Homo sapiens: one gene and its partner. The protein of the gene in region 1 purifies or fractionates together with the protein of each later gene. This does not show direct contact. Each region holds a gene or a part of one and is shown on either strand. Other genes may lie near its edges. The genes, in order: OSCAR and COL2A1.

Region 1 (4,061 bases):
TTGGCAACTCTTGAAATACTATATTGCAAATATTCTGGAAAGCTATTTAAAATTAGAGTTCTGGCTGGGCGTGGTGGCTCACACCTGTAATCCCAGCACTTTGGGAGGCCGAGGTGGGAGGATTGCTTGAGCCCAAGAGTTCAAGAGTAGCCTGGGCAATATAGCGAATGCTCGTCTCTACTAAAAATTAAAAAAAAAAAAATTAGCCTGGTGTAGTGGCATGTGCCTGTGGTCCCAGGTACTCAGGAGGCTGAGGTGGAGGACTGTTTGAGCCCAAGAGATTGAGGCTGCAGTGAGTTGAGAACATGCCACTGCACTCCTGCCTGAGCAACAGAGCAAGACCCTGCCTCAAAAAAAAAAAAAAAAAAAAAAAAAAAAGTCTGGGTGTGGTGGCACAAGCTTGTAAACTTAGCACTTTGGGAGGCCGAGGTGGGAGGATTGCTTGAGGCCAGTAGTTTAAGACCAACCTGCTCAACATAGGGAGACCGCCCCCTCCCATCTCATTACTTAAAAATAATAATAATAATAAAATTACAGAGTTCTGGGACCTGACCTTTTGAAACTGTGTTTACAAACTGTGGAGTAAAGCTCAGAAGTTTCTGTCCTGCCCCTCTGATTTGCACCTGGTTTTAACAAGGCTTGATTGTAGTCCAGTCTCTCCCTGATTTTACAAACAGGAAACTGAGGCTAAGAAAGGGGCAGTAATTGTCCAAGGTGATTTTCCTCCTTCCCCAACTTCCCTTTCATCTTCTGGGGCTCCCAGGAGGCCCGAGGACCCAGGCAGCCCCGTTTATTCAGTCCCCCCAGCTTCATACCACCCTAAGCCATGGCTGGGAGCTCAGCCGGCTACAGTTGTGACCCCTGGGGTCAACGTGACCTTGAGATGCCGGGCACCCCAACCCGCTTGGAGATTTGGACTTTTCAAGCCTGGAGAGATCGCTCCCCTTCTCTTCCGGGATGTGTCCTCCGAGCTGGCAGAATTCTTTCTGGAGGAGGTGACTCCAGCCCAAGGGGGAAGTTACCGCTGCTGCTACCGAAGGCCAGACTGGGGGCCGGGTGTCTGGTCCCAGCCCAGCGATGTCCTGGAGCTGCTGGTGACAGGTGAGGTCCTGGGGTCGGGGAGGAGAAGTGGGTGGAACAAGGGAGTTGGGGGAGGGACAGAGAGATATAGGGAAAGAGAGACAGAGCGAGGCGGGCAAACAGATTCACAGACACAAGAAAAGACAGATACAGAGACACTAGGGGGAGAGAGAGAGACAGGGGAGCAGAGAGAGAGAGAGGTACAGTGCGGGGGGAGAGAGAGAGAAAGAGGCAGAAGGAGAAAGGGAGGCAGAGAGAGAGGGAGGCAGAGAGAGAGGGAGGCAGAGAGAGAGGGAGGCAGAGAGAGAGGCAGGCAGAGAGAGAGGGAGGCAGAGAGAGAGGGAGGCAGAGAGAGAGGGAGGCAGAGAGAGAGGGAGGCAGAGAGAGAGGGAGGCAGAGAGAGGGAGGCAGAGAGAGAGGCAGGCAGAGAGAGAGGCAGGCAGAGAGAGAGGGAGGCAGAGAGAGAGGGAGGCAGAGAGAGAGGGAGGCAGAGAGAGAGGGAGGCAGAGAGAGAGGGAGGCAGAGAGAGAGGGAGGCAGAGAGAGGGAGGCAGAGAGAGAGGGAGGCAGAGAGAGAGGCAGACAGAGAGAGAGACAGGCAGAGAGAAAGAGAGGCAGAAAGAGAGAGAGAGGCACAGAGAAAGCGAGAGACAGAGGAGAAGGAGAAACAGAGCGAGCGAGCGAGCGGAAGACGCTCACGCGGCCCCGGACTCTCACCCCGTCTCTGCAGAGGAGCTGCCGCGGCCGTCGCTGGTGGCGCTGCCCGGGCCGGTGGTGGGTCCTGGCGCCAACGTGAGCCTGCGCTGCGCGGGCCGCCTGCGGAACATGAGCTTCGTGCTGTACCGCGAGGGCGTGGCGGCCCCGCTGCAGTACCGCCACTCCGCGCAGCCCTGGGCCGACTTCACGCTGCTGGGCGCCCGCGCCCCCGGCACCTACAGCTGCTACTATCACACGCCCTCCGCGCCCTACGTGCTGTCGCAGCGCAGCGAGGTGCTGGTCATCAGCTGGGAAGGTGAGGGCCCTGAGGCCCGGCCCGCCTCCTCCGCCCCAGGAATGCAGGCCCCAGGACCTCCGCCCTCAGACCCAGGAGCCCAGGCCCCCAGCCTCTCCTCCTTCAGACCCAGGGGTCTAGTCCTGCAGCCCCTCCTCCCTCAGACCCAGGATTCCTGGGACCCAGCCCCTCCTCCCTCAGATCCAGGAGTCTAGTCCTCCAGCTCCTCCTCCCTCAGACCCAGGATTCCCGGGCCCCAGTACCTCCTCCCTCAGACCCAGGACTCCAGGCCCCCAGCCCCTCCTTCCTGGACCCAGGACTCCAGGCCCCCAGCCCCTCCTTCCTGATCCAGCAGTCCAGGCCCCAGCCCCTTCTTCCTGGACCCAGGAGTTGAAGCCTCCATCGACTCCCCCTCAACTTTGAGACTGTAGAGTCAGGTCCCTAAGTCCACCCCAGGGGCTGGAAACCTGGAGTTCAGGGCCCAGACTTTGGGGTCCGGGAGCTGATGGCCCCTCTCTCCCGGCTCCGCCCGCAGACTCTGGCTCCTCCGACTACACCCGGGGGAACCTAGTCCGCCTGGGGCTGGCCGGGCTGGTCCTCATCTCCCTGGGCGCGCTGGTCACTTTTGACTGGCGCAGTCAGAACCGCGCTCCTGCTGGTATCCGCCCCTGAGCCCCAGGAGCACTGCAGCCCGAGACTTCCAACCTGAGTGGCGGAGAAGCTGGGACCCTGGGCTGGACTGTCCTTTCCTGCAGCCCCACAGTCCTGCTGGCTGAGCTCCGCGGAACGGTCCTTAGACCCCGCTGTGCCCTGTGCTGTAGCTTCTTTCCAGGCCTTTCCCAAGGAGTAGCTGAAAGGAAGACGCGATTAGTGGTTAAGACTTCCAAGCCAGAAGACAGAGGGTTCGAATCCCAGCACTGCCGTCTACTCACTGTAGTAGTAGCAGCTACAGAAAGGTAGTAGTGAGACGTGAAGCCAGCTGGACTTCCTGGGTTGAATGGGGACCTGGAGAACTTTTCTGTCTTACAAGAGGATTGTAAAATGGACCAATCAGCACTCTGTAAGATGGACCAATCAGCGCTCTGTAAAATGGACCAATCAGCAGGACACGGGCGGGGACAATAAGGGAATAAAAGCTGGCGAGCGCGGCACCCCACCAGAGTCTGCTTCCACGTTGTGGGAGCTTTGTTCTCTTGCTCTACACAATAAATCTTGCTGCTGCTAACTCTTTAGGTCCGTGCCATCTTTAAGCGCTGTAACACTCACCACGAAGGTCCCTGGCTCCATTCTTAAAGTCAGCGAGACCACAAACCCACAGGAAGGAACCAACTCTGGACACGGTAGCAGCATTCAGAAAGCGCCCTTCCCCAACTCTCTCTTGCCTTGACGGTAAAATGGATGCACTGATAAAACCCACTTCATAGGATTGTTGTAGGAGTCAGTGGGTAATACACATAAAACATTTAAAGCAGTAACTGGCCCGTAGTAAGTGTTCAATAAATGTTAGCTACCCTGTAACACCGATTTCTACCAGACTCAGTGCCGAAAGGAAGGTCTCACCTTTTTGCCATCAAGCATAATCAAGCACGACTTTTTCTTTCTTTCTTTCTTTCTTTTTTTTGAGAGAAGATCTCACTCCACCCAGGCTGGAGTGCAGTGGCGTGATCTCGGTTCACTGCAACATCCGCCTCCCGGGTTCAAGTGATTCTCGTGCCTCAGTCTCCTGAGTAGCTGGGATTACAGGTGTGCGCCATCACGCCCAGCTAATTTTTGTATTTTTAGTAGAGATGGAGTTTTGCCAAATTGGCCAGGGTGGTCTCGAACTCCTGACCTCAAGTGATCCACCTGCCTCGGCCTCCCGAATAGCTGGGATTACAGGTGCGTACCACCATGTCCGGCTAATGTTTGTATTTTTAGTAGAGACGGGGTTTCACCATGTTGACCAGACTGGTCTTGAACTCCTGACCTCAAGTGATCCGCCCGCCTCAAGA
Region 2 (3,687 bases), on another chromosome or scaffold:
GATCTGCAGGCTCCTGGCCTTGCTGTCATCTTACCATGTTCTTCACCTTCAGGGACCTGCAGGGGAACAAGGACCCAGAGGGGATCGTGGTGACAAAGGTGAAAAAGTGAGTAAAAAGCAATGCTGCTTGACCCTGGTGGACTTCCCAGGTCCCCCAAGGCCCCACCATGTGTTTAAGGGCCTGGTCACCTCTTAAAGAGCAGCCAAGGGACAGATGGCTCTTGGAGAAACACTGCTTCCCATTGATGCCTTTTTCTCTTTATGCCAAGGGTGCCCCTGGACCTCGTGGCAGAGATGGAGAACCTGGGACCCCTGGAAATCCTGGCCCCCCTGGTCCTCCCGGCCCCCCTGGTCCCCCTGGTCTTGGTGGAGTAAGTATCCTTACTTCCCATTCCTTCAGGCTGTCCCTCCAGAAATGTGGCTTTTAAATTGCTGCTTGCACTTACCTGGCTGGCTCCCAGGGCTGCCAGCAGTGTGTACATAGCCTGTCCATGGGCTTTGCCCTCAGGCCTGTAATTTAGAAGAGTCACATATTAGGCATGAGACTGTGGTGCTAAGGGCTGGCTTTTTTCACTAACTGGGATTCTATAAAGAAAGTCCTCAGTTACCTGGCTTCCTGGCATCTGTACCACGTAGTTGATGCTGGGGGGTGGGTGTAAGGGATAGGAGGAAGGATGACTGGGCACTTGTATTTCCCTGGAAGACGAGTGACCACTGTCCTTGGAAGACATTTATCCTTGGTTCTTGCCAAGTACATTCCAAGCAACTATTCACTCTCATGAAAGAGCTCCACTGAGTGAAGGTGTGTGGCTAAAGTCAATTCTGGAATCAAACCAATCAACAAATTATATGATTGCCTAGTTTTTGCAGGTTTGCTATTTTGATGTTTGCTGTATTTTAAATTCTTAAACTCAAATGGGATCACAGATGCCTACTACATCTCTTGCTGAAATATTCCAAGACTGTTGATTTTAGTCTTTTGCTGGGCACTAAAGTCTTAAAGAATAAAGAACACCCTTAGAAGGTTTGGTTATGTTTCTCCATATACGTTAAATAACATCTGTCATATTTTAGAGCATAAAAATAATTTTATAAAATGAAATGCAAGGAACTGATACTTCCTCAAATAACACTTTCCCTTCCAGTGAAATGATTTTGCCACTGTCATCTAATAATCCATTCCCAAAATTACTTTCCAGGCATCAGTGGTAATTCTGATCAATGATAGGTTAGTCTCCAACAATCAGAGTTTATCTCAGTAGAGTTCTTTGTATCCATATAGAGCTTACCTAGCCAAGTAGGGAAGACCTAGTGCCTTTCAACCTCCTAACGTTGTTGGGTTTCTTTGCAGAACTTTGCTGCCCAGATGGCTGGAGGATTTGATGAAAAGGCTGGTGGCGCCCAGTTGGGAGTAATGCAAGGACCAATGGTAAGAAAAGACACTAGTTCTTTGCAGCCAAAATGGCAGGAGGTGGCCCTTAGCAGAGCCAGAGAGTCTGACAACCTCTGCTTTACAGATAATTGCTTAGAGTGGCTCTCCTCCGTAGTTATGTAACCTCCCATTCAGCTAGCCCAAAGCATTTGGTTTTTAATGGCAATGGATGCCACTTTTAATGATGCGCTGGAGTGACTAAGAAGAATGAAGATGGGGAGATGCATATAGGCTGATCTGTTAGAAGACCAGTTGCTATTGCTCTTGGAATGAGAACTGAAGAATGCAGACAGCAGCTACTGTTCTCCAGCATCCACAGACTTCCAGCAGGAAATCTCAGCCCGCAGCTCTGACTTGGCACATGCTAAATGAAACTCAGCCTTTAGTAAACATGGCTGCTGTCCAGGAGAAAGCAAGGCCAGCTTTTCTGTCCAAATGGTGCCTATAAATAAAAATAGAGTGTTGCGTGGGGAGTGGGAAATGAGAGGGAGCAGCCACTCTAGGCCCCTTGCCCACAGAGTAACTTCTTGTCCTTTGCCCGGGCTGTTGGCTGGGAGAAGATGGCACACTGGAGGCCACTGAGGAAGCATGTGTAGTAAACCCCTCATTTTCTGTTCCGATGCAGGGCCCCATGGGACCTCGAGGACCTCCAGGCCCTGCAGGTGCTCCTGTAAGTATCTGCAATTCTTTTTGCCTCCATCGTGTCGCAGATGATTCCCAAGCACTATGATGTTTTAGCAGTTTATAGGGATTGACCTGGTATCCTCATTTTACTTTTTAGGGGCCTCAAGGATTTCAAGGCAATCCTGGTGAACCTGGTGAACCTGGTGTCTCTGTGAGTACCAGCACGGCCCTGTCCCTTCTCTGGGGGAGCCTCTAATGATAGACCACTAGGACCGCAGCTGCTGTCCCTCCCAGGCTCTGCCCAGCTCTTTCCCACAGTCGGTGGCCCCAAGGAAATTCGGATGTCACTTCCTAGCTGTGGAGGAACTCTGACAGACAGCCCAATGTGGCAAGGACCACCAGGGACTCTGTCCTAACAGCCCCCTTTCCGGGTCACCCCAGCCTGTGCTATCTGCTGCGTCCCACTATGATCTCTGCACCTTTGCTCTGACCTTCCCATCTTTCTTCTTCATAGAAGAACTGGCTTCCAAAACTACAATGTCAAAGTTTTGTCCATTGCTTAGGTGTCTTCCCACTATAACCATCTCTTAAACTATCTTCCTTTGTTTGTAGGGTCCCATGGGTCCCCGTGGTCCTCCTGGTCCCCCTGGAAAGCCTGGTGATGATGTGAGTATACACGAGTAGACAAATGAGGAGCTGCCTCCTTTGAAAGGGCCTGGAGAGGGTGTGTGCTTGGGGAGTGACAGGGAGGCACCCAGGGTGGAGGTATCTTGAGGAGCAAGACTGGGCAGTCCCAAACCCTGACGCCATCTCCTATCTATATGGCCACTGTGACTGTGCTGGCAAGTTCCCTGGGGACCGCTTTGGATCCAAGGGGAAGACAAATAATTAAAACATCATTAGCCCCAGGAAGGGAAATTGAGAAATGAGAGAAGGGAGAGAAAAAATACAAGGCAGAAAGATGTAGAGAAGGAAAAACAAAGAAAGAAGCGTTCAACAACCCAGCATTATCTTAATTGTAAATGAGTTAGAAAAAGCACAGCCTGAGTCAGGATGTCTACAAAGGATGCAAACGAAATGAAGAGACAAGAATTGGCACTCTTGTGCTATTTTTATGAATTGCATTAGACAGTAAAAGTCTCTTGAGGTTAGAGAGAGCACATACAGTCAGCAGAACCTAGGAGAGGAGAGAAAAAGCCTCTCAGGGGAAGTTGGAGGCTGGTGAGGACAGAGGAGCTTGCCCATGGGCTATGCATGTGTCCAAAAGAATAAATGGTGACCCATGAAAGGCATCCAGGCACGTGGAGTCTGAAGGAGGTGAGGGAGATGAGTGAGCCGGTAGGCAAAGGCATGGAGGGCTGGAAGGAGGGAAGCCCTCTGGGGTGCCCCCACTATGCTACTGCGTCTCTGAGGAAGCTGGGATATCTCTCTCTCTCCCTTCAGGGTGAAGCTGGAAAACCTGGAAAAGCTGGTGAAAGGGGTCCGCCTGGTCCTCAGGTAAACGCCACCGTTCCCAGCCTCAGGCATCTTTCCTAGCGTCTCCCTCCCTGTGGCCTTAAACACAGTGCATCCAGTTCAATGAGGTCACTTCTGAGATGAAACGCCAGTAGCCCCTATATTTATCACGACCA

What was found.
Region 2: the proteins of OSCAR (region 1) and COL2A1 purify together in Homo sapiens (affinity purification with mass spectrometry; one large-scale study listed by BioGRID and IntAct). This does not show direct contact.

Annotation. Positions count from the first base shown.
Region 1 is NC_000019.10:54,093,902-54,097,962, reverse strand, and holds the end of OSCAR (osteoclast-associated immunoglobulin-like receptor isoform 4 precursor), read left to right. Parts: intron 1-798; coding exon 799-1,101; intron 1,102-1,809; coding exon 1,810-2,091; coding exon of another isoform or gene 2,092-2,285; exon of another isoform or gene 2,286-2,605; coding exon 2,606-2,742; 3' UTR 2,743-3,295; downstream 3,296-4,061. UniProt on the Homo sapiens protein: Regulator of osteoclastogenesis which plays an important bone-specific function in osteoclast differentiation.
Region 2 is NC_000012.12:47,994,290-47,997,976, reverse strand, and holds part of COL2A1 (collagen alpha-1(II) chain isoform 1 precursor), read left to right. Parts: intron 1-52; coding exon 53-106; intron 107-269; coding exon 270-371; intron 372-1,351; coding exon 1,352-1,429; intron 1,430-2,057; coding exon 2,058-2,102; intron 2,103-2,213; coding exon 2,214-2,267; intron 2,268-2,668; coding exon 2,669-2,722; intron 2,723-3,499; coding exon 3,500-3,553; intron 3,554-3,687. UniProt on the Homo sapiens protein: Type II collagen is specific for cartilaginous tissues. It is essential for the normal embryonic development of the skeleton, for linear growth and for the ability of cartilage to resist compressive forces.